Linked DNA regions of Homo sapiens. The protein of the gene in region 6 interacts with the protein of the main gene of each other region in a biochemical or structural test. Each region holds a gene or a part of one and is shown on either strand. Other genes may lie near its edges. The genes, in order: ZBTB7A, RUSC2, SASH1, NCK2, LCK, KHDRBS1 and ABI2.

Region 1 (3,500 bases), on a different chromosome or scaffold from region 6:
CACCCACAGACACACATATATGCACACACACGCAAACAGACACACCCCACCTCTTGGGCCCAAAGCCAACGAACGCTTCCCTGACCCACGTGGCTGTTAAGAACAGCCTAGACCAGGCCCTGCCCTTGTGGGTGGACATCCCGGTGGGTGACAGCACAGGCCAGACATAAGATGACAGCCACATCATATGCAAAGCGTGCCGGACAGGGTTGAGCTGCGGGAGGTGGGCGGGAAGGCACAGTCGTTCTTCCTTCCTGGAGGGCTGGTTCTTCTCTTCTGCACTTTTGGATTTTTTTCTTTTTCTGCTTTGGGAGAGGGTGACAGGCCCTCAGGCTTAGGGAGGGACAGCCCAGGCCGTGGAGCGGCTTCTGAGTTTCCCGTGAGCCTGGGTCATTTGCTTCAATCAGCCAACATTTATGAAGCGTCTGCTGGTGCCAGGCCTGTTCTAGGCGCCGGGGACAGGCCTTGCCGGAACCTGAAGGAGGGGAGGAGCAGCTGTGGGAAAGGGCGTTCCAGGCAGAGGGAACAGCCAGTGCAGAGGCCCTGAGGCCAGCTCAGCTTGAGAGATCACTGTGCCCCCCTGGGAGCCACAGGACTTGGTCCCTAAACAGCAGGAGTTCAAGGCCAGGCCCGGGCAGTTTGCAATTCGGTCTCAGGAGTCCAGAGGTGGCTGGCTGGGCCTCGTAGATCCGGGGCGGGCTGTAGCGGTGGGGGCAGGGGGCTGGCAGGCAGGGACCTGGCCAGGCTGGGTGACTCAGCACCACCCCCTGCCCCCCGCCCGCCCTGGGGTTCCCCCAGCCACGCCCACCGAGGCTGAAGAAAGAGGCCATTGTCCCAGCTTCCCAACCCCACCCCGTGGGGACAGGAACTGGGACTGACCCCTCCCCAGCACCCCGGCCCCCTCCCCAGCAGGCCAGGAGAGGAAGGTGCGGCCTGGACTCCGGCGCCCAGGAGTGCCAGGCAGGGGGCAAAGGGCACTTTGGGAGGCAGGCAGTGTAGCTGGTGGTTTGTCCCTCCTTGGTGAGGTTGGGGTACTGGAGGTCTTGGGGGGCTCCTCTTCCTCCAGGCAGGGGTCACTGTGGGTTCGTCTCTGAGCTCAGGAAGAGCAGCTTGGTGGGGTGCAGAGAACTGGGGTCTGCAGAGGGGACCAGGCTGAGCGAAGGTGGTGACCCCCACCCTGCCTCCCTGGCCGCAGGCCACAGGCCCGGTTTCATTCTGACTCGGGCACTGCTGGCTATCCCACCCGACCCGGGGCTGATCCCCTCAGTCAGAGAAACTGAGGCTTAGAGAGGGACAATTGTGGAGACCTCTTCCTCCCACCCCAATTTAGACCCACCTGCTTCCTCTTTTCCCCCACCCCGTGCTCTGGTCCCCCCTCCCCAGGACACCAGCACCTCCACCCTCCAAAAGCCTGGGAGCCCGAGGCCCCTCTGAGTCACAGCAGGGCGTTGAGTAAGTGGGGCCTGTGGTGGCCGGGGCTATAATTACCCAGGCTGGGGCTCGGGGTGATGAAACTAGGGATACCTCCGCCCCCACCCCGCCTCTGCGTGGCCCTCTGGCCTGCTGTGCAGCTCCAGGCAAGTCCCTTCCTCTCTCTGGGCCTCCCAGGCTCATCTGGGGAGTCTCTGCACGGTTCTAGAAAAACCTAGTGGCTGCCATCCCCTCTGTGACCCCGGCCCTGTGCCAGATCTGGGCAAGGCAGCCCGGAGACCTTGCCGTGGGCTTTGCAGAAGGTGATCAGTAAACCAGAGGCCTGGAGGCTGGTAACAGACCTGGTTAGGCCAGGGTTCTGTTAGCAAGTTACCACGTTCTGTTGGCTTCAGTGGGGCAGCAAGGCTAGAGATAAGGTAGGGGTCTGGTTGCCAAGGGCCAGGCCTTGACCCTCAGGGCAACAGAGCCAAGGAGGGGTTAAAGTTAGGGACACCAGCTCTGTAGCTGGTGCCAGAGGGAGGGACTTAGGGCTGGAGGAACCCAGAGGGGAGCCAGGTCTTTGGGAATTAGGAAAGGTAGAGGGGCATTCAAGGTAGGGCTTTGAGGGATGAGTAGGAGTTTGCCAGTCCCCACACTAAAGAAGTCTTCAGTCTATTGAGTGTGAGAAGGAAGAAACCCGAGGTGGCTCAGATGTGGGGCACAACAGGCAGCAGCAAGGAGTAGGTCAGGTTCTAGCCAGGGCTCTTGAGACCCAGGGCTCCCTCCTGCCCTCCGGATCCCAGGAAGGAGTACACTTTATTACTATAGATTGGCATCACTCAATGGGAATAGGCAAGACACCTACTTTTTTTTTTTTTTTTTTTTTTTTTTTTGAGACGAGTCTTGCTCTGTCGCCCAGGCTGGAGTGCAGTGGCACGATCTCAGCTCACTGCAACCTCCACCTCCCAGGTTCAAGCGATTCTCCTGCCTCAGCTTCCCAAGTAGCTGGGATTATAGGCGCCCACCACCATGCCGGCTAATTTTTGTATTTTTAGTAGAGACGGGGTTTCACCACGTTGGCCAGGCTGGTCTCGAACTCCTGACCTCAGGTGATCTGCCCGCCTTAGCCTCCCAAAGCGCTGGGGTTACAGGTGTGAGCCACCATGCCCGGCCAGCAAGCCACTTACATATTTTTACATTTTCTGACAGCCCCGTTCAAAAAAAGTCAAAGAGAGTTGGTGAAAGTGACTTGAAACATTTTACCTAACCCAGTAGATGCATTTCCATGTGTAGTCAATGTGCACGATCCTCATTGAGCCATTTTACATCACCTTTTGCATATCAAGTCTTCAAAAGCTGGGGTACCTTTTGCACTTCCAGCGCACATCAGTTCAGAGTGGCCACATTCCAAGGGTTCAGGAGCCACCTAGGCCACAGGCACCCCACTGATATGGTGACCGGCTTTGTAGGCTAGAGGCTCCAGGCTAAGCTGGGTCCACGCTGCCCCCATGGGGCGAGACAGGCAGGGAGGGGCCCTCAAGTCACACCCAACCCCTGCCTTCTCGGGGCTCACAATCCAATCAGGGAGACAGAGGAGAAACAAGGAAATCAACAGAAACAAGAGAGACCGGCCGGGCGCGGTGGCTCACGCCTGTAATCCCAGCACTTTGGGAGGCCGAGGCAGGCGGATCACTTGAGGTCAGGAGTTCAAGACCAGCCCAGCCAACATGGTGAAAACCCTGTCTCCATTAAAAATACAAAAATCAGCCAGGTGTGGTGGCGCACGCCTGTAATCCCAGCGTTTGGGGAGGCCGAGGCGGGTGGATCACCTGAGGTCAGGAGTCCGAGACCAGCCCGGCCAACATGGTGAAACCCCGTCTCTACTAAAAATACAAAAATGAGCCAGGTGTGGTGGCAGAGGGCCTGTAATCCCAGCTACTTGGGAGGCTGAGGCAGAAGAATTGCTTGAACCCGGGAGACGGAAGTTGCAGTGAGCGGAGACCACACCACTGCGCTCAAGCCTGGAAGATAGAGCGAGACTCGGTCTCAGAAAAAAAAACAATAGAAGAGTCAGGTGGTGATGACAGGAG
Region 2 (3,500 bases), on a different chromosome or scaffold from region 6:
AGAGTTGTTATGAATGTAACATGTAAATTTACTATCACTGATGATTCCTCTGAAGAATTTCATGCAACCACCAGAAGGTGCAAGATCCTAGAGATCTACATATCTTAGGCATTTTCCAGGAGTACTCCTTCAACTGTCGCCCTGCACCTGATTAAGCTGGATATACTATAGTAAAACAATATGTAACAGATCCATGCACTACATGGTGTTATTGTGGAAATGGCCCTGACACATGGCCACTCACTTGACAGCTGTACAAAAGACAGTTATGTTTTTGCCTAGAGGACGCTAAGGTTAAAATTGTCTTTATTGCTCATCTTCCCCACTGATACTGAGCACACCTGGCATAGCTGAGATTAAACTATGAGTATGTATACTTGAATCTGGCATTTAATCCTCACAAAACGAATAGTGACTACACAGTCAAGCATCTTTAATGGGCAAGTACTTGAGCATCCAACCCATGTAAAGTTTGACGATCTGCACCTCTCCTGTCCTTCCCCTTAGAGAGTGAGTACAAGTTTCTAGATGACAGGTTCGGTGTAGACTGTTCAGATGCATCTGGCCAAGTTGTCATGATTTCTCATTGAGGGAAGAGAGATACGACACAGCAGTACATTGTGGATATGTTGAACCCATTAATTGATAGTGCAGCCATCACTGAGAAGCAACATTCAGTCTTTTCTTGCAGATCTTTACTGTACAACCCCTTACTGATATGACCCCATTTGTTGAGCTGTTGTGGATGAAAAGAACTTAATTGGGTTAGTAAACTGGAGAACTGTTTTGTTTTGGTGTTGCAAACCCATTTGGGTAGAATTTGTTCCATGGGTCAACAACTCTGTATCCCCTGGCCATGTATAAGAACATCACAATTATGTATTACCAGCCATATATCCGAATACTATATGCTACTTCTCCTGAAGTCGGCAGCAGATTGTATATCCTAATAAACACATCTGTGGGAAGCTATCTTAGGACAACAAGATCTTCATTATACCCCAAGAAGATCTCCAGACCTAGGGTGATTAAAACATTAACTGCAGACATTAAAGACATTGATATTATTAATGATATGCACACTCATGTCCACTTAACTGACCCTCTTGCATTGGCAGTGGGCCCATTAGTAGATGTAGAGGCTATTAAACATGAGATCATTGGGCATGCAGATTCAGTCTCCTCCTTTCACTCCTTTGGTGCAGGATTTATCACTTCTCTGTCCCTGTGGAACATTGTGAAAGATATGTATCTACATCTGTCACACTTAGACGGAACTTTGTTTCTCCTATCTTTTGTTGTAACTGCCATAGGAAAATTATACATGTACTACAGGACAGTAGAACAACTTTGCCTATATTCTCAGCTAATTAAATAAAAAAGCTGGTTTTTATGTGTTGATTTTGTACCCTGCATCATTGCTGACACTAAAAAATGCTTAGGGTATTTGCAACTAATCATTATTAGTTCTAATGTTTTTGTGGCATCTTTAGGGTGTTCTCCATACAAGATCGTGTAACCTTGGAACAGAGATAATTTTAGTTTTGGTTTTTTTTTTTTCCCAATTTGTATGCCTTTTATTTCTTTTTCTTACCTAATTACTCAGGTAGGAATTCCAGGACTGTTAAATAGAAATGGCAAAAGAATGCCAGGTTTGGTGGCTCATGCCTGTAATCTCAGCACTTTGGGAGGCTGAGGCAGGCAGATCACGTGAGATCAGGAGTTTGAGACCAGCCCGGCCAAAATGGCGAAACCCTGTCTCTATTAAAAATACAAAAATTAGTCAGGCATCTTGGCGCCTGCCTGTAATCCCAGCTACTTGGGTAGCTGAGGCAGGAGAATTGCTTGACCCCGGGAGGCAGAGGTTGCAGTGAGCCAAGATCATGCCACTGAGCTGAGATCATGCCACTGCACTCAAGCCTGGGAGACAGAGCAAGACTCTGTCTCAAAAAAAGAAAGAAAAAGAGGCCAGGCGCGGTGGCTCACGCCTGTGATCCCAGCTCTTTAGGAGGCCGAGGTGGGTGGATCACGAGGTCAGGAGATCAAGACCATCCTGGCCAACATGGTGAAACCCCATGTCTACTAAAATTCAAAAAAAAAATTAGCCGGGTGTGGTGGTGCGTGCCTGTAGTCCCAGCTACTCAGGAGGCTAAGGCAGGGGAATCACTTGAACCCAGGAGGCAGAGGTTGCAGTGAGCCGAGATCGCCTGGCGACAGAGTGAGACTACATCTCAAAAAAAAAAAAACAAAAAAAGAAAAAAGAAATGGCAAAAGTGAACCATTTCTCTTAACACACAATCCTTATGGGATTGTTGATTTGGTATGCAAGTCCTTAATAGACACTGAAAACAACATTATTTTAGCCTGGTATATTATTAATGTTAACAGTAGTGAGGCCAGGCGTGGCGGCTTATGCCTGTAATCCCAGCACTTTGGGAGGCTGAGGCAGGCAGATCACTTGAGGCCAGGAGTTCAAGACCAGCCTGGGCAACATGGTAAAAGCCCAGCTCTACTAAAAATACAAAAATTAGCCAAGCGTGGTGGCATGCACATGTAATCCCAGCTACTTGGGAGGCTGAGGCACAGGAATTGCTTGAACCCAGGAGGCAGAGGCTGTAGTGAGTTGAGATTGTGTCACTGTGCTCCAGCCTGGGCGACAGAGTGAAACTCTCAAAAACAAAAACAAAAAACAAAATAGTAGTGAGTCATCAAGAAAAGTTAAATTATAGCCTACATAATACATTTTAAAAAGTTCTGCCAAAACACTTAAAGTTTTTAAAAAATTAATTTTGATACTTTAGGAAGAAACCCTCTGTTCCTTGGAATTGTTGGTTTAATAAAAGTCTTTTATCTTCAAGAAAATGAGATGGTAAACTCTGAGGTATGTGTTGTATTTTTGGCTTCTTGTGTGAGTTCCTGCAGACAAGGACAATAGACTGATAACTGGGTGGAAAGAAAAATAGGGCCAGCCAACTTCTGGCTAAAGTTTAATTATCTTAGGATCAAAAGTCTATACTTAACTTGTTTATCTTAGGATCCAAAAAAATCTGTATTTAATTTATCTGTTTTTATACTTTGTGCTTCCTTTCTTTTCCTGTATAATTCTTTTTAAAAAAAGAAAATGCACCCTTGTATTTAGTGTACTTAGGGAAAATGGACATTTATTTTTATCCACGCCCAGGCAAAAGAAAAAGAGCAAAGTTCTCCTAAAGGCAGCATAGATAGGATTTAGATGAACCCAAGGTAAAAAGCAAAAACTGCAGGGGAGAAAGTTGGGAACCTACTACTAGTCCCGTTCATCCTCAAGTTGTTTCTCTTCCAAAATGTTCTTTACTTGTTTTTTGAAAGTTGTTTATTTCTGTTTAAAGATACAGTCAAACTTTGTTAAAGTTGGCTGTATTCTATTTATTTAAAGTTATAGCCAAACAGAACAGCTTATTTTTCTAGAGTTCCGGATAGCTAGAGTTTTTCTATAAGACTAATGATTTCCTTTTAAACAT
Region 3 (3,500 bases), on a different chromosome or scaffold from region 6:
CTTTATTATAAAATTCTCATGACAATGAATGCCTTAGAATCAGATCCTCCTCCACCTCTCTGACCCTCCTTGATATTTCCTGAGTGAATGTCTTTAAATGAAAGGTAGTGAGAAAGACCATACAGTAAATGCTGGCCTAGTGAGCTGGTGGTATCACTTGTAGCAGATAAAGTGCAAACAGTTGAATATCTGTAAAGCAGAAGTTAGCCCTTCTCTCCTGCAGTTTAGAAGACTCTCTTCAGTAACATTAGAGGAGTTGTATTTTGCAAAATGATCTGATTGAGGCGAAGGCATTGTCCTGAAAAATGTGGAATAATTGTGTTCTGCCTTAACTATGCTTCAGAACATTTTCCTAGAGCTCATCAGTACTTTAAGATAAAGATGTAAAAGTATTCCCTCTAAAGCATTCATCCTGACCAATAAAGAAAATATATTCATTTCAAATTCAAACTTTTGGGTTGGGTGTGGTGGCTTACGCCTGGAATCCCAACACTTTGGGAGGCCAAGGCGAGAAGATCGCTTGAGCCCAGGAGTTTGAGGCTGCAGTGAGCCATGATCACACCACTGCACTCCAGTCTAAGTGACAGTGAGACCCTACGTTATATGTGGTGTATCTTAGGGAAAGAAAAACAAAATCCTTATGACTCTTGATGTCATATTCCTGTTCTCCCTGGCAGCATGGCCGCTGTGGGATTCCTGAAGCCCTGGTGCAGAGATACGCAGAGGACTTGGATCAGCCCGAGCGGGACGTCGCCGCCAACATGGACCAGATCCGGGTGAAGCAGCTTCGGAAGCAGCACCGCATGGCGGTGAGCAGCCCACAGTTCTCCAGCTTCCTGAGGCACATTTAGTGATCACGCTTAGTGATGACCATACTAACAACTGCCAAGTAGGCAAGGGCTTGCGTAGCTATGGAAAGGAGACAGCTGGGGAGAAAGTAATATGTGGTCAGCCTAGAAATGTTTAAAAATACACTTTCAGAAAGAAAAAAAAAATGAAAATTATCCGTAATCCCAACACTGTGAAAAACTTTTTAAAGATCCGTCTAGTGCTGGGCGTGATAGTGCACACCTGTAATCCTAGTTACTTGGGAGGCAGAAGCAGGAGGATTGCTTGAGCCCAGAATTTTGATGCCGGCCTGGGCAACATAGTGAGACCCCATCTCTTAAGAAATAAAATAAAATCCGTCTGAATGACACAGTTTCAGTTAGAAGCATAACTTCCAAAGATCTATTGTTCAACATGGTGACTACAGTTAATAACAATGTATACTTGAAAATTGCTAGGACAGCAGATCTTAAGTGTTCTCACCACAAAATATAGTATATGAGGTAATGCATATGTCAAATAGCTTGATTTAGCCATTCCACAATGTGTACATTTATCAACACACCACGTTTTACACCATAAATACACACAATTTTTACTTGTCCATTAAAACTCTGTCTAGTCATTTCTCTGCACATGCGTAATGTATGCGTAAATGTATAGTACCGAAACCTGATTGTTGGCTATTATCAGATCATGAATCTGTTTCCCTGTTACTTAAAAAAAAAAAAATTGATATCATCAATACAGTAGTCTCCCCCTATCCATGAGGGATTATGGTCCAAGACCTCCAAGTGGATCTCTTGAAAGCTTGCTGAGTACCAAACCCTGTATATATTATACACAAATTTCTTTTTCCTTCACAATTTCATGGATAGAAGATTCGTTTTCACTGTAGGTCTTAGGAACCTCAGCATACAATTTTTTTTCTTTTCTTATTAAGTCAAGAACTCTCACCTTTTTACTTAAAGGAAGCACTTAAGGGCTTCTCTTTGCCACGTGCGAATGGCCAGCATCGTTACTCTTGCACTTGGGGGCCATTGTAAGGTCAAATAAGAGTGACTTGAATGCAAGTACTGCATTACCGCAACAGTTGATCTGATGACTACGGGCTACTAAGTGACTGCGGGGCTGGTGGTGTAGGCAGCGTGGATTTGTTAGACAAAGGGATGATTGTCAGGTGGGACAGAGCTGGGTGGTGTGAGATTTCTTCAGACTACTCAGAATGGCATGCAATATAAGACTTATGAATTGTTTATTTCTGGAAATTCCCATTTAATATTTTCAGGCTGTAGAAAGCAAAACCATGGATAAGCAGGGGGGTGGCTATTGTATTTCAAAGTATTCTAGTAGGTCAGTGTACTCTAGTAGTGAGTCTCATAGTTAAAACATTTAGATTTTTCTAACCTTTTATTTTAAATAATGTAATGAAGAACATCCTTGTTAATAAATCTTTGTAGACTTTAAAGGTTAATTTCTGAGTAGATATTCCTGGAAGATGGTTTGCTTCATCAAAATTGTATAAAATCCCAAAGATTTTCATACTCGTTAGCAAATCACCTTTCTGAAAGGTGCAGGCCCTTTATATACCCAGTAGTCAAGGTTAAATGTCCACTTCCCTGTTCCAGCCAACCCTTGATATTATTGTATTTTAAATTCTTCATAACTTGTATTGACTAAACATGTAATTTTCTGGTTGTTAACATAGATTCAAAATACAGTGGAAAGTCTCCTTTATAAAAACCCTACCCACTGAATGCTACATTTCACACGATCACCCAGATTTGTCCCTTCAGACTACCTTAGGGCTCTTTGTCAAGAGCATATCCACAGTGAAACAAAATAGCAGAATATGTAAATGCTTATAGTTTGAAGACTCGGACACATAAATGGGATTTGACCTCATTCCAACACCTTCGAGAACCTTGTGGAACTCTTCCTTAAAGATTTGTTTCATCTTAGAGAAGAATTTTTCCTGCTAGTCTTGATCTCTGACACTCATTGCATTGTCGCTTTCTGATAATAGTCTAGCAATGCAGTATTTCAGTGCTGTTCCTTTTAGACATACGCGAAGTAGTCCTCGATGACACATGGAGCGTTTCTATCATATTCTTTCTTAATTTATCCAGATTCCAAGTGGTGGACTCACGGAAATCTGCCGAAAGCCCGTCTCTCCTGGGTGCATTTCGTCTGTGTCAGATTGGCTCATTTCCATCGGTCTGCCCATGTACGCCGGCACCCTCTCCACCGCGGGCTTCAGCACACTGAGCCAAGTGCCTTCTCTGTCTCACACTTGCCTTCAGGAGGCCGGCATCACAGAGGAGAGACACATAAGAAAGCTCCTATCTGCAGCCAGACTCTTCAAACTGCCGCCAGGCCCTGAGGCCATGTAGCCAGGCCCGGAATGGGCCTCTCTGGACAAGAGCCACCCTTTCACTGTGCATATGATGCTGATGCAATTCCTCCATCATCTCTGGACGTGCAGACCAGATCCAGAAGAAAGGCCTGGCGTGTGGCCAAACAGCGTGAAACCTTGGCACAGGACTGAGGATCCTCTCCTCCAGAAAAGCCCCCTCGAGGAAATAAATTAGTGCGGTTCTCTTTGACCCCCAAAGACAAGACAAGCACTTATTTTTATTTTCAGAAGACAAAAGAACCAAGATGCCAACTGG
Region 4 (3,500 bases), on a different chromosome or scaffold from region 6:
ATGCAGAGGCTTTCCTCCTTCCCAAAAGGTTTGTTATCTTTAAATTTGGAAGTTAATTCATGAAAGAAACGTGTATTATTTATAAAAAAATTTTTTTAGCATCTAGTAGAAAATATGTTATTTAAAAATGGTATTTATGCTTCCATGGAGTCAATGTGCATAGGTCCCCTGTAATCCTAAAGTCATCCCTATACAATAATGAGAACTTCTCTGTCAGGGAGGAAGGGGATTTTAGTCCTGAGTGTTTTCATCATTCATTTCTCCCTAGTTTGGAGAAATGTCTAGTTAGTTTAAGGACTGAATATTGAATTTTTCTGCTTAAAGAATATTGGTTCATCTTCTACCTAAGAAGTAGAGAGTTGCTAAAATAGTTGATTATTTATTTTATTTATTCAGCCACACTTTTGCTATTTATTACTTCCAAAATTGACTTTACTGGATATATAATACACGCATCTATTTATTGTTGTTTTGATAAACTTTTCATTTTGGAAAAATGTTATGTTCACTTTTGATGTTGCACATTTTATAGATTTTAACAAATGTATAATGACAGGTGTCCGCCATTATAGTATTGAGCAGAGTAGTTTCACAGCCTTAAAAATCCTGTGCTTCACCCTTGCATCCCTCCCTTCCCTCTTGCCCCAGGCAAGCACTTATTTTCTTACTGTCTCCATAGATTTGTCTTTTCCAGTATGTCATACCGTTTTAAAGAAAAAACTTATTCATGACATTTGTTGAAGAACAGTAAGGCAGATTTTATTCAGAGGGACTACTACAGTAGGGTTTTGCAGTCAAGAAAGAGATTGGGTTTGACTCCTAATATTAAGACAACAAGGAAGAGTGGGCATTTATAGGCAAGGAGCAAAATAAGGGAGTTGGTGGGTGGAAAATTACTAAGAGGAAACATCAGGGGTGGAGCGTGGGGATTCTGGCTAAACTGACCGAACAGGATTCTTCTGAAGGCAGGACAGGGTGATCAGCTGTCACCTGGGGGATGGTAGAGGATGAGGAACCTGATCAGATGTTGAGAGTGGAGGATTCCAGCTAGAGCACCTTAGCAGGAGAGTCTTGCAAAAATTGGGCAATGCAGAGATGGACACGGAAGTGCAAAAGTTGAGGCCTTAAAGGGAAGAAGATTCAAAGGAATTTGGCTGAAGTTTGGTTAAGGATAAACTGTCAGAATCACACAGTGTGTAGCCTTTTCAGATTGGCTTCTTTCACCTAGCAATATGCGTTTAAGGTTCCGCTATGTCTTTTCATGGCTTGATAGCTCATTTCTTTTTGGTACTGAATAATATTTCATTGTCTGGATATACCACAGTTTATGTATCTATAAACTGTGTCCTACTAAAGGACATTTTGCTTGCTTCCAAATTTGAGCAATTATGAATAAAGCTGCTACAGACGTCTCTGCACAGGTTTTTGTGTGAATGAAAGTTTTGGGGAATAATTTTATATTTATAAAAAAGTTCCCAGTATAGTACAGAACTTTCCCTTATACCCTTTACCTGGTTTCTCATTGTGTTAACATCTTATGTGAATGCAGTAACATCTTACTGGTGTGTTGTCCAAACTAAGAGATTGACAATTATTTATTGTTATTATTATTCTTAGACTTTATTTTGATTTCACCAGTATTTCCATTAATTTTCTTTTTCTGTTTCATGATCCAATCCAGGATACCACCTTGTTATTAGTACAATGTTAATTTTAATTTATAGGAGTAGTTTGGTTATGTTGACTTATTAAATATGTTTATAAGACACAGCATATCCTGAGAAAATGAGTGTCAACCTAACAGTTATCAGGAGGCAGTGTTACTTAATGAAATGGACTCATTTAATTATAATGTTATTTAGAATTTTTTTCAAGTTTGTTTTTGTTAGAGGGTCAGATTTCCCCATGTACAGCAAACAGTAACATAAGATTTGTTTTATAAGGTTGCTGTTTCTAAACCAAATACTAAAGCTTGTTGAAAGAAGGTCATTTTAAAGTTGAGCATTTCAAGACCCAGGAGAAAACTGGTTGCAGAGTTGTAATAAAAGCTGTCAGTGCCTAATTTTTCAAGTTGGTGCAAAGGATGAAGTGTCCGGGTAGTTCTCTAATGAGCATCTCCAAATGTTTTGCTGGCAGAAGGACTCCATGAAAGATGACAGAAGAAGTTATTGTGATAGCCAAGTGGGACTACACCGCCCAGCAGGACCAGGAGCTGGACATCAAGAAGAACGAGCGGCTGTGGTTGCTGGACGACTCCAAGACGTGGTGGCGGGTGAGGAACGCGGCCAACAGGACGGGCTATGTACCGTCCAACTACGTGGAGCGGAAGAACAGCCTGAAGAAGGGCTCCCTCGTGAAGAACCTGAAGGACACACTAGGTGAGTGTTTCACCCTCGAGAGAGGAAGCCTTGTGCATTTCAAGGGACACTGTTCGTCTTTCTAGTTAGTTTGCTGTTTCAAAAAAAAAAAAGTCTGTTTTAAAAGTTAATATCTTCCTAGTTGTCTTTTTTAATAATCTAAGAATTAAGAGATGAAGATGGAGAAAGAGGATGTTTTTCATTTCCTGGAGATTCTGGAGTTTGGGGTCCTGTGTATGGAGACACTTTGTGTGCTTGGGACCCCTGCACAGGTATCTCCTTGTATCAAAACGTTAGAGGAGCCTGACTTGGAATTCTCACCTCTAAGTCTACCCAGCTCTGCCAGTGTCGTGACATGAAGTTCTTTCTCTCTTATACAATCCTGTCCATTTGGCCTACGTGCCTAGAGCAGGGGACAGCCAAAGCACTTTTTCCCTCTCTGAAATGGATGCTACATCACACCACAGTCCTGGGTGCCGTTAGCTAAGAGGGCAGCTTTGTGACATCAGAGGCCGCTCCATGGTGGGGGCCTAGTTCAGCCATACTGTTGTCCCCATGTGCCTCTTTTTTTTTTTTTTTTTTTTGAGACGGAGTCTCACACTCTTGCCCAGGCTGGAGTGCAGTGGCACGATCTTGCCTCACTGCAAGCTCCACCTCCTGGGTTCACACCATTCTCCTGCCTCAGCCTCCCGAGTAGCTGGGACTACAGGCACCCACCACCACATCCGGCTAATTTTTTGTATTTTTAGTAGAGATGGGGTTTCACTGTGTTAGCCAGGATGATCTCGATCTCTTGACCTTGTGATCCGCCCACCTTGGCCTCCCAAAGTGCTGGGATTACAGGCGTGAGCCACCGTGCCCGGCTCCCCATGTGCCTCTTGTTTTCCCAGGTGTTGTCAGGTTATGGGCAGTGCCCTCCTGGAGTTACACAAAGTTAACAGTATCCAGTCTTGCCTTTACATGCACACGGAACTGACTTACAGTATTTACTGCCTCAGATTACCTGAGAAAATAATTGCGAGGACTTTTTTGAAGAATGACTCATCTGAGCTGACATTTAAAACGTTGTTACCTTCTTATGAGTATAATGTTGTCTGTATCCAAGACTGCAGGTTATCACTTAAGGGTTTGCTAGTGAAATGA
Region 5 (3,500 bases), 240 kb from region 6:
ATATCTATGTCTATGTATTTGCTGTGTGTAGGTGAGGTCTTTGTCTTTGGTAACTAGTTCAGCACTCAAAGTGGGGACACTCAGGTTGCTGTCATCCTTTTACAGGGTTTTAATCTCTTGGGAAGGGCCATTGGTCACTCACTGCATCCTAGCAACTCCCATCCATGTCCAGCTGCCCTCCACTATTAGAGAGGTGGTCCCTCAGACCCCCAGACCCCCTCTTTCTTATTCCATCCAATATATTCAGCACATAGTTATTGTTTCTTACTCTCGGCTGGGCACCAGGAACATGGATGGATGAAACAAGGTTCCTGTTGTCAGGGAAACCTGATTTTAGTTACAGCTACTGGGGAAACCAGAGTTTGTGCCATGGGAAAGTTCCAGCATGCCCATGGGAGTGTAGATGATGATCCAGTTTATTATGCCTGGTAGGATCTAGAGAGGCTTCCTAGTGGGGCAGTCTAGCAGGGCCACGAAAGAAAAGTAGAATTTTTTTTAGCAGGCAGAGATGAAACAAAGAGGCTTTGGGGTGAGAGCCTAGTGGTCTGAGTGCAGGATCTCAAAATTGCTAAACTGTTTGAAGTCAAAGGCAGAGTGGGGGAAAGAGAAGAAGCTACCAGTGTGGACCATGCCAAGCTTAGGATACTAGTTGAGGATTCTAGGTTCTACCTTATTGGTGATGAAAAACCTACAGATCCCTCCCAGCATGCTCTACCCTAGCCCCTCTGCAAAAAAACCTTTACATATCCTGGGCATCCTTACCCTGAACACACACTCCTCCATTCTCACTCTTCAATCTTCCTTTTCACATGTCAGACACACTTCTAGACTCCCAGTTGGAGGAGAAAGGTCTGGGGGCCTCCCCCTGGGGCAACTTGGGCCAGCAACTCTTGCTTCTGCCCACAGGGAGTCTAGTGGATTTTCTCAAGACCCCTTCAGGCATCAAGTTGACCATCAACAAACTCCTGGACATGGCAGCCCAAGTAAGGAGACTGGGGAGGGGGGCTGGGCAAGGGAACAGACCAGTGACGTGAAGACATCTGGCTCAGGACCGCTGATCTGTGTTTGGCCTGCAGATTGCAGAAGGCATGGCATTCATTGAAGAGCGGAATTATATTCATCGTGACCTTCGGGCTGCCAACATTCTGGTGTCTGACACCCTGAGCTGCAAGATTGCAGACTTTGGCCTAGCACGCCTCATTGAGGACAACGAGTACACAGCCAGGGAGGGTACGTGTGAGATTTAAGGGTGGTCTGGGCCCTGCAGGGTCTGGCCAAGCAGACCCAGGTGACCTCACTCTGCCTCCTCCTTAGGGGCCAAGTTTCCCATTAAGTGGACAGCGCCAGAAGCCATTAACTACGGGACATTCACCATCAAGTCAGATGTGTGGTCTTTTGGGATCCTGCTGACGGAAATTGTCACCCACGGCCGCATCCCTTACCCAGGTTAGAGCCAAGGGCAGGAACTGAAAGGGTGATGGGAAGGGCAAGTCCATGTCTTCCCATTCAATTCTTTCCAGTCTCAGAATCTGAAACTTTGTAGCTGCATCTCCTCTATCTTCTCAGGGGTATGAGTCCAACGTCCCCAGGCAGATGCCACATCTCCCAGGGCTGGCTTCCATCTCCGTATCTCTCTTTAATAACCCCAGCTCTTTTCTTTTTCTCTTTTTTTCTTTTTCTTTTTTTTTTTTTTTTTTTTTTTTTTTTTTGAGACGGAGTCTTGCTCTGTCTCCCAGGCTGGGGTGCAGTGGCGCCATCTTGGATCACTGCAACCTCTGCCTCCTGGGTTCAAGTGATTCTCCTGCCTCAGCCTCCCAAATAGCTAGGATTACAGGTACGTGCCACCATGCGCAGCTAATTTTTTGTATTTTTAGTAGAGACAGGGTTTCACCATGTTAGCCAGGATGGCCTCAATCTCCTGACCTCGTGATTGGCCTGCCTCGGCCTCCCAGTGTTGGGATTACAGGCGTGAGCCACCACACCCGGCCCCAGCTCTTTTCTTTAGTTCTGGCCCAGGCAGCCTGGTATGGTAGAAGAAGATCTAGCTCAGGAACAAGAGGCCTACCTTTTATCAGCAGATCTGCCACTGTTGCTAACTTTCTGTTTGGCTTTGTTCAGATCATTACTGTAACTAGTGAAGCTAGTCACTTCACTTCTCTAAGCCTCAGTTTCCTGATACTAAAAATAAGAGACTAGGCCAGGTACAGTGGCTTATGCCTATAATCTCAGAACTTTGGGAGACCAAGGTGGGAGGACTGCTTGAGCCCAGGAGTTCGAGACCAGCCTGGGAAACTGGTCGAAACCCCATCTCTACAAAAACAAAAGTTAGCCAGGTTTGGTGGCATGTGCCTCTAGTCCCAGCTACTCAGAAGGCTGAGGTGGGAGGATCACCTGAGCCAGGGAGGCAGAGGTTGCAGTGAGCCAAGACCATGCCATAACACTCCAGCCTAGGGCAATAGACCAAGACCCTGTCTCAAAACAAGAAAAAGAGAGACTCCATCTCTACAAAAAAAAAAAAACAAACAAACAAAAAAAACATTTAAAAATTAGCTGGGCATGGTGGCACACACCCGTAGTTTCAGCTATTTGGGAGGCTGAGGTGGGAGGATCATTTGAGCCCAGGAGGTTGAGGGTGCAGTGAGCCATGATTGTTCTATTGCACTCCAGCCTGAGCAACAGAGAGAGAATTTGTCTCAAAAAAAAAAAAAAAGAAAAAGAAAAAGAAAAAAGAAAAAATGAGAGACCATTTGTGAAAGAGCCTGACTCATAGTAGGTTGTCAGTATACACTGACTCCTCCCACCATCTCCTGGACAAAGCCCTTTACCCCTGAATTCAGCCAAGACAGGGATGGAATTTTTGAAAGGAACTTGCTAAGAAACTCTGGGGAAAGGAAATGGAGCATAAAGACAGGAGTAGGGGGGTCATGCGGCACAGTGGCTAGATTTGTAGAAGCTTCCCATATCCCCAGAGCAAGGTGAACAGACCTTTGCTCCAAGGAAGGTAAAGACACCTTGGAAGGCCGGATGCAGTGGCTCACACCTGTAATACCAGCACTTTGGGAGGCCGAGGCGGGTGGATCACAAGGTCAGGTGTTCGAGACCAGCCTGACCAACATGGTGAAACCCCGTCTCTACTAAAAAAAATATATATAAAAATTATCTGGGCATGGTGGCACGCGCCTGTAACCCTAGATACTCAGGAGGCTGAGGCAGGAGAATTGCTTGAACCCAGGAGGCAGAGGTTGCAGTGAGCTGAGATCATGCCACCGCACTCCAGCCTGGGTGACAAAGTGAGACTCTGTTTCAAAACAAAAACAAAAACAACCACCTTGGAAACAGGTGAAAAGCTGAGGGGCTTCCCTGCCCTGGGCTTGCCCCAAACCAGCGTCCAGGGGTAGTGCTGGAGCTGGAAATACAGAAATATTCTCCAGTTATCCTGCCAGGGGTCCTCACTGCTCCTTCCCGGTTCCCACAGAGGCAAACCCATAGGGAATGTATCT
Region 6 (3,500 bases):
GCCTGACCAACATGGAGAAACCCTGTCTATTAAAAATACAAAATTAGCCGGGCGTGGTGGCACATGCCTGTAATCCCAGCTACTAGGGAGGCTGAGGCGGGAGAATCACTTGAACCCAGGAGGCAGAGGTTGCGGTAAGCTGAGATTGCACCATTGGACTCCAGCCTGGGCAACAAGAGTGAAACTCCATCTCCAAAAAAAATAAATAAATAAGTTTTTAGGCATTGTGTACCCATAATGCTGAACTCCAAGGATTCCAACAGTCTCAAATGTCTTAGCAGCTGCTTTGCTTTCAAGTACCTCATCTTCATTAGAATGTTCAACATGAGGCAGGGCGCGGTGGCTCACACCTGTAATCCCAGCATTTTGGAAGGCCGAGGCGGGTGGATCACGAGGTCAGGAGATCAAGGCCATCCTGGCTAACATGGTGAAACCCCGTCTCTACTAAAAATTCAAAAAAAAAATTAGCTGGGCGTGGTGGCAGGCGCCTGTAGTCCCAGCTAATCGGGAGGCTGGGGCAGGAGAATGGTATGAACCCGGGAGGCGGAGCTTGCAGTGAGCCGAGATTGCGCCACTGCACTCTGGCCTGGGTGACAGAGTGAGGCTCTGTCTCAAAAAAAAAAAAAAAAGAATGTTCAACATGAAACAGACCATTTAACATATCCTAGAGAAAAACACAGCTGGTTAATAATCTTAAGGAAATTCTTTTTACTCTTTTTGGGGTGTTCTATTGATCACCCAAGCCATTCAATTTCCAAAGGACTGCAGAGGGAATGCCCATCTCCTCTCTTCATTGTTAGTCTCCCTCATATTCCTCAGAAGGGTTAGGTTTATGAGGCTTGCTTGTAAGTGAATCTTTTGAAAAAGATGCTTGCCGGGGAGATGTGGGTTTCCTCAGTGTTGATGTGGCAGTTGGAGGAGTCTGAGCAATGGTCTGGCATTGGTTACTTGATTCTCCAAGGTGTGAGTCTCAAGCAGCGGTAATGTGTAAGGTAGGAGGAGCTAGAGAGTTGAGGGGGGCATCAAAGACTAGCATCATCTATTGAAGCTGTATACGCCTGGGATATATAAAAATGCATGAAGTATTAAGACTGAATGGCTCTCAATAGGAAGTGTGAAAAGATTTGCCAGTGGCATTTGATTTTTCCCTCTTGTGGAGGAAAGAAAAGTGAGGCTATTTTTGCATCTGTGACCAGAGCCCTCCATTTTCCACTTAGAACAATTAACTATACCAGCAATGCTTCACAGTGCCGTAGGAAGAGCACTGGACTATGTATGTCTGTCTATCTGTGTCTTCCTGAACAGGTTATCATTTCACTTTTCTGAGCTTCAGGTTTCTTGTTCGTCCCAAACATTTCTTAAGTATCTGTCAGATGTCTGATACTATGCTTGGGTGTAAAGTTACAAAAATGGCTCCTAAAGAGCTTACAGTTTAGTGACAGACAATTCTAAAATTATGTGGTAAGTGCTTGGGTATAGGGAATTATGTGGTACTTTGAGAAAAGAGGAGTTGTAGGGGTGGCATCAAGAGAAAGTTTTTCAAGAGACACTTATTTAGGCAAGTCTTGTAAGGATGAATTAAGAATCCCTCAGGTGGACAAAAAAGACAGTATAAGGACAAAAAAGCCTGTTGATCCAACACCTAGATTTTGAGACAGGTAATTCTGAATTCACATCTAGAGTCTGCCATTTATTAGCTCTGTGTTCTTAAGCTGGTTGATGTATACTCCTTGAGTCTGTTTTCTTAACTGTAAAATGTGGAGATCTGCCTACTTATTTCAGGGTCATTTTGAAGATTTTTTTTTTTTTTTTTTTTTTTTTTGAGATGGAGTCTCTCTCTTTCGCCCAGGCCGGACTGCAGTGGCGCTATCTTGGCTCACTGCAAGCTCCGCCTCCCGGGTTCTCGCCATTCTCCTGCCTCAGCCTTCCGAGTAGCTGGGACTACAGGTGCCTGCCGCGCCCGGCTAATTTTTTTGTATTTTTAGTAGAGATAGCGTTTCACCGTGTTAGCCAGGGTGGTCTCGATCTCCTGACCTCGTGATCTGCCCGCCTCGGCCTCCCAAAGTGCTGGGATTACAGGCGTGAGCCACTGCACCCGGCCCTCATTTTGAAGATTAAACTGAAAAATCTATATAAAGCTTATTATATAGAGCCAAGTGCATACAGCTCCATTAATGGTAGTGGCTTTTATTATTCCAGGAAAAGGAAACTATTTGCAAAGAATGGATATGTAAGAGTATGCCAGGCTCTGAACTACAAGTTGTTCAGTCTGGCTTGTGAGTAGGTTATATATAGAGAGAGAATGGAAGTGATCCGGAGAGCTAGGCAGAGACCACATTATGAATAATGAGGGGTCTACCATCAAGACTTTTCTCAAAGAGGTGACAGATAGGGTGCCATTTGACTTCAGAGAAGGAATGACCTGAGACCTCATCTGGGCTCTCAAGAGCTCTTCTTAGAATTCAAGTCTCCCGTGGACCAGATGATTTCTCAGTAGAAAGTGTAGATACCACACAATACTCCTTGTATCTTTCGTTCCCAGGATATGATGGATGATATCTGTCAGGAGCAATTTCTAGAGCTGTCCTACTTGAATGGAGTACCTGAACCCTCTCGTGGACGTGGGGTGCCAGTGAGAGGCCGGGGAGCTGCACCTCCTCCACCACCTGTTCCCAGGTAAAAATAATGGAGACACCCAGAAATAGGATGTGAATTTGACTACTAGTGTCATCTCTTTTAGTGGTGCTCTTATGTCTAGCTTAGGAAGGGTCTCAGGATTTGTATGTTGCATAAAGAACAGAATTCTACAACCATACTCTCACACCTGTAATCCCAGCACTTTAGGAGGCTAAGGCAGGCGGATCAACTGACATTTGGAGTTTGAGACCAGCCTGGCCAACATGGTGAAACCCTGTCTCTACTAAAAATACAAAAATTATCCAGGTGTGGTGGCATACACCACACTACTCAGGAGGCTGGGGCAAGAGAATTGCTTGAACCCAGGAGACGGAAGTTGCAGTGAGCCGAGATCATGCCACTGCACTTCAGCCTGGGAGATAGAGCAAGACTCCATTTCAAAAAAAAAAAAAAATAGAGTTCTAGATCTTGGGCACTTTGACCATAGCCAAGTGCTGCAGTCTAGCTGAAACTTTTGGTCTTCTAATTTTGGACAGTCTTAGCATTTGTTAATGGTCTGACTTTAAAATTCTACCTTTTGTGACTGACCTTTATAGAGTATTCAGACTCTCCAGACCTACCCAAGGCAGTGCAGTGATGAATTGGTCCTCTATAGGACCTGGGGGATCTTGCAGTGTGGGTCCTTTACCCTGTACATTCCTCTGTGCTTTAATAATAGCCTAGTTAAGGCTTCATAAAATCTGCCTAATTCCAGAATTTGTAAACAAATCAGAACATAAAAGTGGCCTGTTTATAAAAAGCTCCATTTAAGATAAACTTTCATTTTGTAGGGGCCGTGGTGTTGGACCACCTCGGGGGGCTTT
Region 7 (3,500 bases), on a different chromosome or scaffold from region 6:
GTGAGCCAAGATGGCAGCAGTACAGTCCAGCTTCTGCTCGGCATCAGAGGGAGACCGTGGAAAGAGAGGGAGAGGGAGACCATGGGCCGTGGGGAGAGGGAGAGGGAGAGGGAGCGGGAGAGGGAGAGGGAGACTAAACTAAAATTTTTCTAAGCGAGGCCCATCTTTTTTCTTTGCTAGTAAAATTAGTCAGTACTTATCCATGTTCAAGTTTGTCATGGCTTAGAAAAAAAGATTAAGCAAGGTCAAAAGGCAACATAAAGAACTTAAGAAAGTAGTGCTCTTCCCACCTTCCCAAGGGCTGAGTAGGACTTACTGGGCCAGGTGTTAAATTAGTTAGCAGGTAACAATTAAAGGAGCTGGAAAATAATTATCATAAAATAATATAAAATTGGAAGTAATTCTTCTCAAGAGCTAGGTATTGAAAGGCAGTGGCCTTAAGAACTCAACAAGTAGGGTAGCTTTTACTGTCTAAAAACTTTAGGCTGGGTGTGGTGGCTCATGCCTGTAGTCCCAGCACTTTGGGAGGCTGAGGCAGGCGGATCCCTTGAGGTCAGGAGTTTGAGACCAGCCTAGCCAACATGGCAAAATTCCATCTCTCCAAAAAATGCAAAAATTAGCCAGGTGTGGTGGTGCACACTTGTAGTCCCAGCTACTCAGGAGGCTGAGGCGGGAGTATCACTTGAGCCCAGGTGGTCGAGGCTGCAGTGAGCCATGTTCATGCCACTGGATTCAAGCATGGGCAACAGAGTGAGACACTGTCTCAACAACCCAAAACACAAAAACTTTATATAGATAGCCTTGCTTAAGAATTTCTAATTTTGGCCAGGCTCCGTGGCTCACGCCTGTAATCCCAGCACTTTGAGAGGCTAAGGGTGGCCGGATCACCTGAGGTCAGGAGTTTGAGACCAGCCTGGCCAACATAGTGAAACCCTGTCGCTACTAAAAATACAAAAATTAGCTGGGTGTGGTAGTGGGCACCTGTAATCCCAGCTACTCTGGAGGCTGAGGTAGGAGAATTGCTTGAACCTGGGAGCGGAGGTTGCAGTGAGCTGAGATCGTGCCACTGCATTCCAGCCTGGGTGGCAAAGCGAGACTCTGTCTCAAAAAAAAAAAAAAAAAAAAAGGAATTTCCAATTTTAATTAAGGAGATACACTGAAGGTTATCAATACGTAATTATGCATAGAAAGTAGACTTTTTATACTTCCCAATTAATTTCCTATGTAGTTTTTATATCACTTTATATAAAAAAACTGAAAATTACTCTGTTAGTAACTAATTTGTTTTATGAATGATACATAATTTGAAGCATAATTGTAATTTAAATGTTTATTTGAAACATTAGCTTACTAATAAAAAAAATTGAGACATATTTAAAAACACCCAATTTAGTTGGGTTAATCCACTGTAACTGTTTGATTGCAGATGTTTTCCCACACTGATGGGCAGCTAACTGAGGTAGTGCTATCCAGTACAGTCAACTTTCAATTATCTGTGGTAATGGGAAATGACAATGCATGGATAATCCTAAAACAAAATATTTTATACAGTACCTTCCTGTCATCTGCTGTGGCCTGAGCATGTGCTTGGGTTCATGAGGGAGATGTGGGAGTGGGGCTCAGGCTTGCAAAGGAGCTGGGAGTCAGTATGATTATCTCAAGGCCATAAGAGGTATCCTTAAGGAACCTGGGTTTGGCACTGTGTGGCTGAAGTGTCATGGGGAAAGCCTGCAGCATGCAAGATCAGCTTGGCAATATCAGTGAGAAGGATGGGGAAGCTAATTAATAAGGAACTGTGGGAGAATAGTTGTTTATTAAGTCCTATACAATTGCAGTGATATATCTTGGTGTGTTTTTTGGTTAATGGGATCTGTAGCAAACAATAATTATATTAATTGTGTATTTGAATTAGTTTTGGTCATCTTTGATTGCTAGCAGAACACATTTTTTACTTGCCACAGGTGAGTGCTGTTATTGAGGTCTCTTCTAAATAAGTAGGTTTATTGTCATATAACTAGTAACTTAAAAAACCCAGAATAAATTTGAAATACTTTTCTTACTTTTAAAATTCATCCTAAATATCAGTGTTGAACTTGTACTTCCAAAATTTAACTTAATGAAATTTAACATTGTAATGTCAAAGAATATCATGAGGGCAAATGCCATAATTACTGATACTGTGAATTTGATGTAGGAAAAATATAGTAGCCATATTTTATTTAAGAATATGTTACAGGAGCTTTCCTAAATTTCTTTTACAACTGACAATTGTCTACGAATTTATGAATGTTAAAGCTGCATGATAGATGTGAGGAGGGAGTGTTTATTATTCTATCTAATTTGAATATGCTTATTTTCTACAAGTGAAAGCTATAAAAAAATTGAAGCAGATGATTGCTGAAAACCTTAGAATCTTCTGGACCAACCTGAGAATCTTCTGCTTGTTTATGAAATAGATTTAGTGCTCTCTGTCAAATTATTCAAACTCCAAATAGAACCGTAGCCATTTTCTAAAGGCATGTTTTCTTCTGCCCACAGGCAATACTGCAGTTCAACCCCGTGTGGTAGTATGATGGCAAGAATGCAAATTATACCGTTGTTAGATTACCTTTATTATTATAGATGTTTTTTAAAAGTTATTTACTTAAAATATCTATACTTAGGCAAATTAGAGGCGTTGATCTTGAGTCGACTTTTGTGACCAAATTTGGAAACAATTGCAGTTTGAGATTGAATGAGGTAAGGGACCAGCTAATTAGTCCTTCCTCTATAGATCTTTGGTTCTCAACCAGGGAAGTTTTGCCCCCAAGGGGACATTTGGCAATGTTAGACATTTTTGGTTGTCACATCTCATGGTGGGGGAGTGCTACAGTTATCTACCTGGATGCTTTTCTATATTCTGCAATCCTCAAGACAGCAGCCTTCACCCCTGCCCACAACAAAGAATTATCAAGCCCAAAATGTCAATAGTGCCACTGTTGAGTTACCCTGCCCCTAGTGTTTCTAAGATGTAGGCATTCTTTGAAGTAGACAATTAAAAACATCATATAGCCAAACTAAATTATTTTGACTTTCTGTATACTTATGCTGTTTAAAAAACATGCCTTCAGTTTTTACTGAGATTTGATATAAAAAGCAACAACAAATATATTTTTAAAGAATTTAATCCTGGGAAACATTTCACTTTCCTGATGAATTGATATATTTCCTCGTAACTCATTATGTTTCTATTTTGCCTTCTCTCCCTGGAGGCTTAGTGCCAATTTTTTTGCTCTATTATAACAATGACCCTTTATTTTAGGCTTATTGTTATCTTTCTATTTACTGTATTGGTCTTCCCTTTTTTTTTTTTTTTTTTTACTGTTATGGTCTATGGGTTTGGGCTAAGTGTGTGTTTGTGTGTATATGAAGAGAACATGTGGGTAATATGTAAATGTCCCCAATCCCTAGACCAAGTCACATCTCTATAAGATCAAATGAACAGATTTCTAATTTATATT

What was found.
Region 1: the proteins of KHDRBS1 (region 6) and ZBTB7A form a complex in vitro, tested with the Homo sapiens proteins (one study listed by BioGRID).
Region 2: the proteins of KHDRBS1 (region 6) and RUSC2 interact in a test that uses a peptide from one of them, tested with the Homo sapiens proteins (one study listed by BioGRID).
Region 3: the proteins of KHDRBS1 (region 6) and SASH1 interact in a test that uses a peptide from one of them, tested with the Homo sapiens proteins (one study listed by BioGRID).
Region 4: the proteins of KHDRBS1 (region 6) and NCK2 interact in a test that uses a peptide from one of them, tested with the Homo sapiens proteins (one study listed by BioGRID).
Region 5: the proteins of KHDRBS1 (region 6) and LCK interact in a test that uses a peptide from one of them, tested with the Homo sapiens proteins (one study listed by BioGRID).
Region 7: the proteins of KHDRBS1 (region 6) and ABI2 interact in a test that uses a peptide from one of them, tested with the Homo sapiens proteins (one study listed by BioGRID).

What each region holds. Positions count from the first base shown.
Region 1 is NC_000019.10:4,049,900-4,053,399, reverse strand, and holds part of ZBTB7A (zinc finger and BTB domain-containing protein 7A), read left to right. Parts: intron 1-3,500. UniProt on the Homo sapiens protein: Transcription factor that represses the transcription of a wide range of genes involved in cell proliferation and differentiation.
Region 2 is NC_000009.12:35,496,611-35,500,110, forward strand, and holds part of RUSC2 (AP-4 complex accessory subunit RUSC2), read left to right. Parts: intron 1-3,500. UniProt on the Homo sapiens protein: Associates with the adapter-like complex 4 (AP-4) and may therefore play a role in vesicular trafficking of proteins at the trans-Golgi network.
Region 3 is NC_000006.12:148,545,338-148,548,837, forward strand, and holds part of SASH1 (SAM and SH3 domain-containing protein 1), read left to right. Parts: intron 1-677; coding exon 678-809; intron 810-2,957; coding exon 2,958-3,221; 3' UTR 3,222-3,500. UniProt on the Homo sapiens protein: Is a positive regulator of NF-kappa-B signaling downstream of TLR4 activation. It acts as a scaffold molecule to assemble a molecular complex that includes TRAF6, MAP3K7, CHUK and IKBKB, thereby facilitating NF-kappa-B signaling activation.
Region 4 is NC_000002.12:105,852,912-105,856,411, forward strand, and holds part of NCK2 (cytoplasmic protein NCK2), read left to right. Parts: intron 1-2,136; 5' UTR 2,137-2,152; coding exon 2,153-2,378; intron 2,379-3,500. UniProt on the Homo sapiens protein: Adapter protein which associates with tyrosine-phosphorylated growth factor receptors or their cellular substrates. Maintains low levels of EIF2S1 phosphorylation by promoting its dephosphorylation by PP1.
Region 5 is NC_000001.11:32,278,765-32,282,264, forward strand, and holds part of LCK (tyrosine-protein kinase Lck), read left to right. Parts: intron 1-906; coding exon 907-983; intron 984-1,076; coding exon 1,077-1,230; intron 1,231-1,314; coding exon 1,315-1,446; intron 1,447-3,500. UniProt on the Homo sapiens protein: Non-receptor tyrosine-protein kinase that plays an essential role in the selection and maturation of developing T-cells in the thymus and in the function of mature T-cells. Plays a key role in T-cell antigen receptor (TCR)-linked signal transduction pathways.
Region 6 is NC_000001.11:32,034,368-32,037,867, forward strand, and holds part of KHDRBS1 (KH domain-containing, RNA-binding, signal transduction-associated protein 1), read left to right. Parts: intron 1-2,542; coding exon 2,543-2,676; intron 2,677-3,467; coding exon 3,468-3,500. UniProt on the Homo sapiens protein: Recruited and tyrosine phosphorylated by several receptor systems, for example the T-cell, leptin and insulin receptors. Once phosphorylated, functions as an adapter protein in signal transduction cascades by binding to SH2 and SH3 domain-containing proteins.
Region 7 is NC_000002.12:203,373,394-203,376,893, forward strand, and holds part of ABI2 (abl interactor 2), read left to right. Parts: intron 1-2,538; exon of another isoform or gene 2,539-2,622; coding exon of another isoform or gene 2,623-2,739; intron 2,740-3,500. UniProt on the Homo sapiens protein: Regulator of actin cytoskeleton dynamics underlying cell motility and adhesion. Functions as a component of the WAVE complex, which activates actin nucleating machinery Arp2/3 to drive lamellipodia formation.